2 separate regions of the Homo sapiens genome follow, and region 1 is linked to region 2. Evidence: fine-mapped expression QTL. Tissue or cell type: lung. Region 2 holds a variant in brackets; the other region holds the start of a gene. All regions are shown on one strand. Distances are between the middles of the regions.

Region 1 (4,190 bases), 93 kb before region 2:
TCACTGCAACCTCCGCCTCCTGGGTTCAAGAGATTTTCTTGCCTCAGCCTCCCAAATAGCTGGGATTACAGGTGCACACTACCACGCTCAGCCAATTTTTGTATTTTTAGTAGCGATGGGGGTTTCTCTATATTGGCCAGGCTGGTCTCGAACTCCTGACCTCAGGCGATATGTCTGCCTTGACCTCCCAAAGTGCTGGGATTACAGGCCTGAGCCACCGCCAGCTCAGATTTAACGTGAGAGGATATCAGAGACATAGTTCTTGCCAACCACCCACAGACCACCACCCCCATTTTATAGACAAACTGAGACGGCTGAGCAAGGTGGATCCTACCTGTGATCCCAGCACTTTGGGGAGCCGAGGTGGGAGGATCACTTGAGCCCAAAAGGTCGAAACCAGCCTGGCCAGCATAGCAAGACCCTCTCTCTACAAAAAATAAAAATCTTAGCCAGCCATGGTGGTGCGCACTGTGGTCCCAGCTACTCCGGAGGCTAAGGTGGAAGGATCATTTGAGCCTGGGAGGTTGAGGCTGCAGTGAGCTATGACTGGGCCGCTGCACTCCAGCCTGGGCCACAGAGCCAAACTTCGACTCAAAAATGTAAATAAAAATAAAAAACAAGTGAAAGGTGAACATTCTCAACTTGATAAAGGAAAAAAAATCAGTCGCTGAGGTTGCTGGGATCGACCGAAGACACAAACCTTCTATTCCCGCAAATGTGAGAAGGAAAAAGAAGTTAGAGCCGGCTTTGCTGTCGCCCCTTCCCCTTGAAGAGTCGGGGCCAGTGCGTGACGAATGCTGCTGTAAGTCTTTTAATTTTTTCCTTTTTTGAGACGAAGTCCCACTCTGTTGCCCAGGCTGGAGTGCAGTGGCGCGATCTCCCCTTACTGCAAGTTCCGCCTCCCGGGTTCAAGCGATTCTCCTGCCTCAGCCTCCTGAATAGTTGGGATTACAGGCATCGCCACCACGCCCGGCTAATTTTTCTATTTGTAGTAAAGACGGGGTTTCACCATGTTGGCAATGCTGGTCTCGATCTCCTGACCTCATGTGATCTGCCCGCCTCGGCCTCCTGCTGGGATTACAGGAGTGAGCCTGTATCTTTTTTATAGAGATGGGGTCTCGCCATGTTGCCCAGGCTGGTCTCCAATCCTTGGGCTTAAAGGATCTGCCAATTCGGCCTCCTTTGCTTTTAAAGAACTGTGGGGGCTGGCGAGGTGGCTCAGGCCTGTAATCCCAATACTTTGGGAGGCCGAGGCAGGCCGATCACCTGAGGTCAGGAGCTTGAGAGCAGCCTGATCAACATTTAGTATTCTCTACTAAAAATACAAAAATTAGCCGGGTGGGGTGGCGCGCACCTGTAATCCCAGCAGGAGGAGGCTGCAGTGAGCTGAGCTCGCGCCACTGCACTCCAGCCTGGGTGACAGAGCGAGACTCCGTCTGAAAAAAAATCAAAAACCGCTCAGGGAAAGGCCTGACACTGATGGAGCGACCGCTCCGGGGCTCCCGCCACCCGCGGCTGTTTCCGGTGCCCCCCGGGGTCTTGGGACCCTCCCAAGGTGGGTCCTGCTCTAGTTCAGAAGCTTATGACGCCTTTGCGGGGATGCCTGGCTTTGGGATCGGTTGGGATCTGCTGGAATTGGGTCCGTGGCGCGCAGCTCCCGGGCTGGGAGGTGCCGTAGGACCTGGAAGATTCTCGAAAGTTCTGGAAGGTTCTCTCAGGGATCGCCGCGGGCGGGGGAGCCTGTTTTCCCACCGAGACCCGCGAGGGCGGTGTCCGGGGTCTGACTGCAGGACAAAGGGCCGGGAGCGCGGGAGGGCGGCGCCCGGGAGCGGCCACACATGCCCCGCCAACCGGTCTCCTCAGGCAGCACTCCCGGGAAAAAGGGGTAGACGCGCGGCGGAAGGGGCGGGGCCGGCGCGCGGCCGTGGACGCCGGAGAGGGCGAGGCCGGCGCTCCTTGGGAGCGCGCGCGTCCCATTGGGCAGCGGGCGGAAGGGGGCGGAGCTTGGCGCCGCCGCGAGGCAAGCCCCGCCCCCGGCCCCGCGGGGAGCGGCGGCGGCGGCGGCGGCGGCGGTGGCGGAGGCGGTGAGCGCGGGCGGCGCGGACGGCAGCGGTTGGCGGGCGGGTCCTCCGCTGTTGCGGCCGCTGCGGCCTCCTTGCCCGGGCTTGGGGCGCCGCGCTGGGGAAAGCCGGGGGCCCGGTGAGCCCGCGGGATGCGTCCCCTCGGTTCCGCCGGGCGGGGCTGAGGCGAGGAGGCCGGGCCTGGGGGGAGGGGGGGCCCCGGCCTAGAGACTCCTCCGGGAGCGCCCGGTCCCTACCGCCGTGGGTCCCCCACTCTGCCCGGACCCCCTTTTCCGCCCCTGGCGCCGTGGGCCCCTCACTTTGCCTGGACTCCTTTTCCCGTCCCTGCCGCCCGGACCCCATCTCTTGCTTGGACCCGCTCCCCCATCCTTGCTGCCTGGACCCCTATCTCCTTCCCTGGATCCCCCTCACGTCTGCCGTGAACCCCATCTCTTGCCTGGACCCCCATCTGCTTCCCTGGATTCCCCACCCCCAACCGTGAAATCCCCCATCCCTGCCACCTGGACCCTCCGCTCCACCTCCTCCGTGAGCCCTCGTTCTTGCTCCCTGAGCCCCCCCGCTTCTGCTGTGACCCCCTTCTCTGTTGCCTGAATCCCCCGTTCCTGCAAGCCGCAACCCTTCCTCCGCCATGAAATCTTGTCCCTGCTGCCTGGACCCCTACTTCTGCTGCTGCTGTGATCCCCTCTCTTGCTGGAAACGCCACCCCTACCTCTGCTGGGAACCTCCTCTTCCCTGCTGCGGGGACGCCCCCCTCCGTTGTTGCTAAATTCCACCCCCACCCCCAAACCTCCTTTTCATTTCTGTCAACAGCCAAGCCAGTCCTTCCCATTGATGCTGTGAACGGTCTGCAGCTGTCCCCGTTCTTTCAGGGACATGGCAGCCAAAAGAGCAGTCGTTTTTCCGCTCTTATTTTTGTGTGTGTGCTGTGGTCAACTGTTAACTCCCCAAATTGGGGAGGGTTGTGAGCTTTGATTGTGTAAAATGCCTCTCCTGCCGAGGTCGGAGGCAGGTCTTCCGCACGGAGATGATTTATTCAGGAGCCTTTTAAAACTGATCTAGATAGAACCTTTGGGAGGGACTGTGCTGTATTTTATTTATGAAAAAATGCAGGCGCCTCCCTGGATACCGAGCCCCGTCGTTTCTGTTTGTCAGTCTGCTTTTTGGCATTGAGCATCTCAATGCAAGATTGTGGAATTAAACCATCTACTTGAGGCTAAGTCGAGCTAACCTTTGCCCCTGAGGGCTGTGTCTGCGTTAACATCGCCAGCAAACAGTTGTATAAACCACCGTGCAAATTTCGTTCCAGGACACATTGGCGTGAGACCTGGGAGTACGTTGTGCCAAATCATTGCCACTTGCCACATGAGTGTAAATGATGGCGGATGCCAAGTATGTCCTCTGCCGATGGGAAAAGCGATTATGGCCTGCGAAGGTGACAGCCATTATTCTGTAACTTCAGGACTTAGAAATGACTTTCGGGTGACAAGTAAAATCTTGATCAGGAGATACCTAGGATTTGCTTCAGTGAAATAATTGAGCCAGAACACGGTTGGCACTGATTCTCGTTCCCCATTTAATGGGGTTTTGGTCTAGTGCTTCCAAGGTTACACTTCCAGAAATGTCTTTTTTTTTTCACACTAAAAAAAAAAAAAGAATCAGCTGTAAAAAGGCATGTAAGGCTGTAACTCAAGGAAAGATCTGGCAAGCAGCCCTGTGATAGTAAATTATGGTCGTGTTCAGGGAATGCTTTCCAGCAATTCAGTAGACAGTGCTCAGCTGCAATGCAAAAGCCCAGGTCCTTGTCTTTGTCTGCCACTGGCCTCTCATGCCTCAGTTTCCCCATCTGTGAAACAATGGGGATTGGACCAAATATCTGAAATCCCATGGTTATAGGCCTTCAGGATTACCTGCTGCATTTGTGCTAAAGTTTGCCACTGTTTCTCACTGTCAGCTGTTGTAATAACAAGGATTTTCTTTTGTTTTAAATGTAGGTTTTGGCCCGAACCGCGACTTCAACAAAAAATAAGAGAAGAAAGGAATATTTTCTAGCTGTGCAAATCCTCTCTCTAGAGGAAAAGTTAAGTGTTGTGTTGTTTTAATACTGTTTTT
Region 2 (4,000 bases):
CGCGTGGGTCGAGCCGTTGGGGAGGGCTCCGGGCCGCGCAGGAACGGGGCGGGGTCCACACCGCGGGAACAGCGGGCGCGGCGGCGGGGGGCGCATGGGGCGAGCGCGCGGAGGCTGCAGAGTCGGGGGTCTAGTGCCGTCGCCGTAGAGACCGTTGCCGGGAAACCGCCTCGGAAGGCTGGCGGGGATGGAAGCCCCTCTCGTGCGCCGCTGCGACCCCCAGCCCCGGGTCTGCGCAAGCGCAGGGCTCGCCCAGCCCAGCCCTCGGCCTCTGCAGGAGACCCTCGGACCCCTCCTCACTGCGCCGACGCGGAGGCTGCGCCAGCTGGGGCGGCGGGGGCGGCTGCGGGGGCATCCTGCGGAGGCTCGGCCCTGCGCAGGGTGGGGGCCTGGGCCACGCCCTGCGCTTCTTTGGGCCTCAGTTTCCCCTTCTGGGCGCGAGCGTATGGCCTGCTTTGACGTTCGCCGCCGCTGCTGTTCGTATCCGTCCGCTCCCGACCCCAGCGCTTCTCCAGCCTCCGGAATCGTCTGAATTTCGCGGCTGTGACATCCCTCATTGGAGGGGAAACTGAGGCTGGGGGGTGCAGCGGGGAGCCCAAGGTCACGCTTCGAGGCCGGAGCCTCGTTGCGGAGCTAAGGCGCCCGCAAGAGAACGCGGGGCGGGGGCCGGGGAGCTGTCCGCGGTGCTGACGGAGGCGCACGTCTGCCGACTCGCCGCCGGGGAAACTGAGGCCCATAGCGGCGGTCAGGCTTCAGGGCGCGGCCTGGACCGGCCTACCCCACCCTCCCCCACCTCCGGTGGCCTCCTCACCGGTCAGGGCTCTGCCCGGCCACCCAGCCGGCGGCGGGCCGTCTCTATCCTCCCGCGATGACCTGGTGCCTTCTCTGTCCCCACCCAGCTCCCGATGGGGGCCGCCCCTGTTTCTGCCTCTAGCCCCTGGCACAGAGGAGGCATCAAGGGGGCGGGGACAGCTCGAGGTCAGACTCAGAAGGCTCAAAGACACTCCAAGAGTGAGCCGTGTGCCAGGCTGCGGACTTGCGGGGAGGTGTCACAGGACAGGGGTGGGGGAGTGAGCATTTCATGGAACTTCCCCTTTAGCCCAGCAGCAGTAGGGGGCGTGGAGGACCCCAGGGAGGAGCCTAGGTCGGGGTCTTGGGCTAGGCCCTGCGTTCTGCAGTGGGAGAAGGGGGAGACCTCTCTCAGTCTCCTGAAGTCCTAGGGGGCTGTGGGGGGTTCTTGAGGCTCTGAAATGTCTGGTGATGTCTGAGTGTGGCTGTGGTTCAAGGATTTACAGGGTCGAGGATTTTAGTGTGTGGGGGGGGATTGTTCAGGGACATAATGTTTTGTAGATTTGGGGCCAAGGGCATCTTGTCTTGGGGTCTCAGCCCCCATGTACCCTCAGCCCTCCAGGCCCTGGCCACCCCCAGAGGGATAAGAAGGGAGGTTCAGTGTCACTCCGGAGGCCTGGCTGGCACAGGTGAACTCAGGCAACACGTTCCCTGGCCCAGGCCTCAGTTTCCCCATGTATACAAGGACAGGACTGACCTTGGATCCCCCAAACCCCTGCCTGATGGGGGCCTGGGGAGCTGAGACATCTGAAACTACACAGGGAGGTGGGACTTAGTTCCTCTTTGGGGGAGGCAGGGATCATCCAACCCACCCTTCAGTAAACAAGACTGGAAACCGAGGCCAGAGAGAGACATGCCCAGGGGGACACAGGGACAACAAGGCTGAGCTGAAGCCAGGGCCCTGGGCTCTGCATCCCCAACCCCATTTCAGCCTCGCCCAGCTCTGCCCCGGCTTGACCTGTCAAACCCCACCACGCGCCCTACCCCATGGCTCCACCAGACACCCCCTGTGTCCCAAGCATGCATTGATCTTCCCTCAGCCTGGAACGCCTCTCCTCCTGATCACTGCTGTTCACTTCTCAGGGCAGCCTTCCAGCCTCCAGAAAAAAATCCCCTTCGAGGCGGGCGGATCATGAGGTCAGGAGTTTGAGACCAGCCCGACCAACACGGTGAAACCCCCTCTCTATTAAAAATACAAAAATTAGCTGGCAAGGTGGTACATGCCTGTAATCCCAGTTACTGAGGAGTCTGAGGCAGGAGAATCACTTGAACCCAGGAGGCGGAGGTTGCGGTGAGCCGAGATGGCGCCACTGCACTGCAGCCTGGGGGACAGAGCAAGACCCCATCTAAAAAAAAAAAAAAAAAAAGGCCGGGCGTGGTGGTTCACGCCTGTAATCCCAGCACTTTGGGAGGCCGAGGCGGGTGGATCACGAGGTCAGGAGATCGAGACCATCCTGGCTAACGTGAAATCCCGTCTCTACTAAAAAATACAAAAAATTAGCCTGGGCGTGGTGGCGGGCGCCTGTAGTCCCAGCTACTCGGGAGGCTGAGGCAGGAGAATGGCGTGAACCTGGGAGGCGGAGCTTGCAGTGAGCCGAGA[A/T]CGTGCCACTGCACTCCAGCCTGGGCTACAGAGCAAGACTCCGTCTCAAAAAAAAAAAAAAGAAAAAAAAGAAAAAGAAAAAAGAAAAGATCCCCTGTGTCTGCCCACTGCATTGCCTCCCCAGACCCAACCAGTGGGGACAGCTGCGTCCAGCTCTGGGGGCTCCCAGACAGCCAGGCCGAAGGGCTCTCAGCCCCTGGCAGTGCTGGCCCGGGACAAGGCCCTCGGGTCTTCAGCTCAAGGCCCAACAGGAAACAGCACGGGTCCTCCCTTGCCTTTGTCTACGGGGCCTTGAATACTCGGACCTTCCCACCCTCTCCTATCATTCCCTGCACCAGCCCTTGCAGAATCTTCCGCCTCCTCTCCATTTTACAGAGGAGGAAACCGAGGGTTGAGCGGCGAATGATTTGCCCTGCCTGCCCAGCACGGAAAAAAATCACTCTTCTGGCCCCAGTCGCCTCCCTTTCTGTGCTGTGAGTCTGTGTCCAGAGCAGGAAGGGCTGCTCCGAGCTGCAGGGACGGGCTCTGTGTGTTAAACCTTCAAATGGCTTCCAGGGACTCATGGAGCATCCAGGACACCTGGAGATGGCGACTCCTGGGACCCCTGGCCCTTCCCTCCTCTGGCCTTCGGTCCGTGAGGGTGAATTAAGTGTGCCACCCACCAGGGGCAGAGACACATGGAGACAGAGATTGAGAGACAGAGAACAGAGGGGGAGACAGAAAGAGAGAGGGACATGAAGAGCAACGGAGTTACAGGAGGATCTGACGCTCCGTTGGGGAGACAGGGAGAAATGTGGGGAGATGCAGCGTCCCAGGTGCTCCCCAGTGGCCCTGCCCCTCCTCCCCTCTCCCCTCCCCACCAGGCAGGACCCTCAGGGAGCTCCAGCCTGGACCCGAACCCTGTCCCACCCTGACGCACCTGCACCAGGCCAGGCTGGACCTGTGGGGTGGGTGCAGGCCTGGCCCCAGCCCGGCCACTGCCCTGGAAACCCCTCCCCCGCCAAGATGCTGATGTAACATCCAGGATTTGATGTTTTACTCTCCAATTCTGCAAATCCAGACGCAGGAGGTTTTAAGAGGCCGTTGCACCCTGCAATAAAGTGCGGGACACAGGAATCTTGGTCCTCGGGGCACCCCCTTCCCTCGGGGGGGTTTCGCCCCCCGCACTCACGGCCCCTGAGCCCGCGCGGAGGCCCGACGCCCCGCGGCCGACGCCGGTCCCCGCCCCGGGCCGCCATTGGCTGTTGCCATGGCACCAGCCCGTCTTCCCGCGCCCTCATTGGCTGTCTCACCCGCATCCCTCATCCCGCATCCTCCCCCGCTCGCGGTGGTCTCGCCCAGCGCTAGGAGCGGCAGCGCCGCCTGCCCAGGCCCGGACCGGGCTTTGTCCGCCCCGGAGCCCCTGCCCGCGCCGCGGAGACCCCGGAGCCCGCGCGCTCCGAGGCCACCCCGGGCCGGGATTTCCGGTGGGGCCCGCGGAGCCGCGCAGAGGGAGGAGGCCCCAGACCCAGGCGCCCCGCCAGCCCAGCTGCACGTAAGCGGGTGTGTGTC

Evidence for each region. PIP is the estimated chance that this variant, and not a neighbour inherited with it, causes the effect.
Region 1: it holds the start of PWWP3A, and the variant in region 2 is fine-mapped to the expression of PWWP3A in lung (TOPMed, PIP 0.91).

What each region holds. Positions count from the first base shown.
Region 1 is chr19:1,352,937-1,357,126 of GRCh38, forward strand. PWWP3A (PWWP domain containing 3A, DNA repair factor) reads left to right here and starts at 2,023. Exons shown (of 14, transcript NM_001369789.1): 1 at 2,023-2,199; 2 at 3,388-3,513; 3 at 4,073-4,158. The coding sequence starts at 3,457. RefSeq lists silencers at 1,682-1,781, 1,767-1,927, 1,812-2,101, 2,162-2,231 and an enhancer at 1,824-2,709.
Region 2 is chr19:1,446,348-1,450,347 of GRCh38, forward strand. APC2 (APC regulator of Wnt signaling pathway 2) reads left to right here and starts at 3,774. Exons shown (of 15, transcript NM_005883.3): 1 at 3,774-3,991. RefSeq lists silencers at 583-877, 3,621-3,820. The variant A/T (reference allele first, on the strand shown) is at 2,450.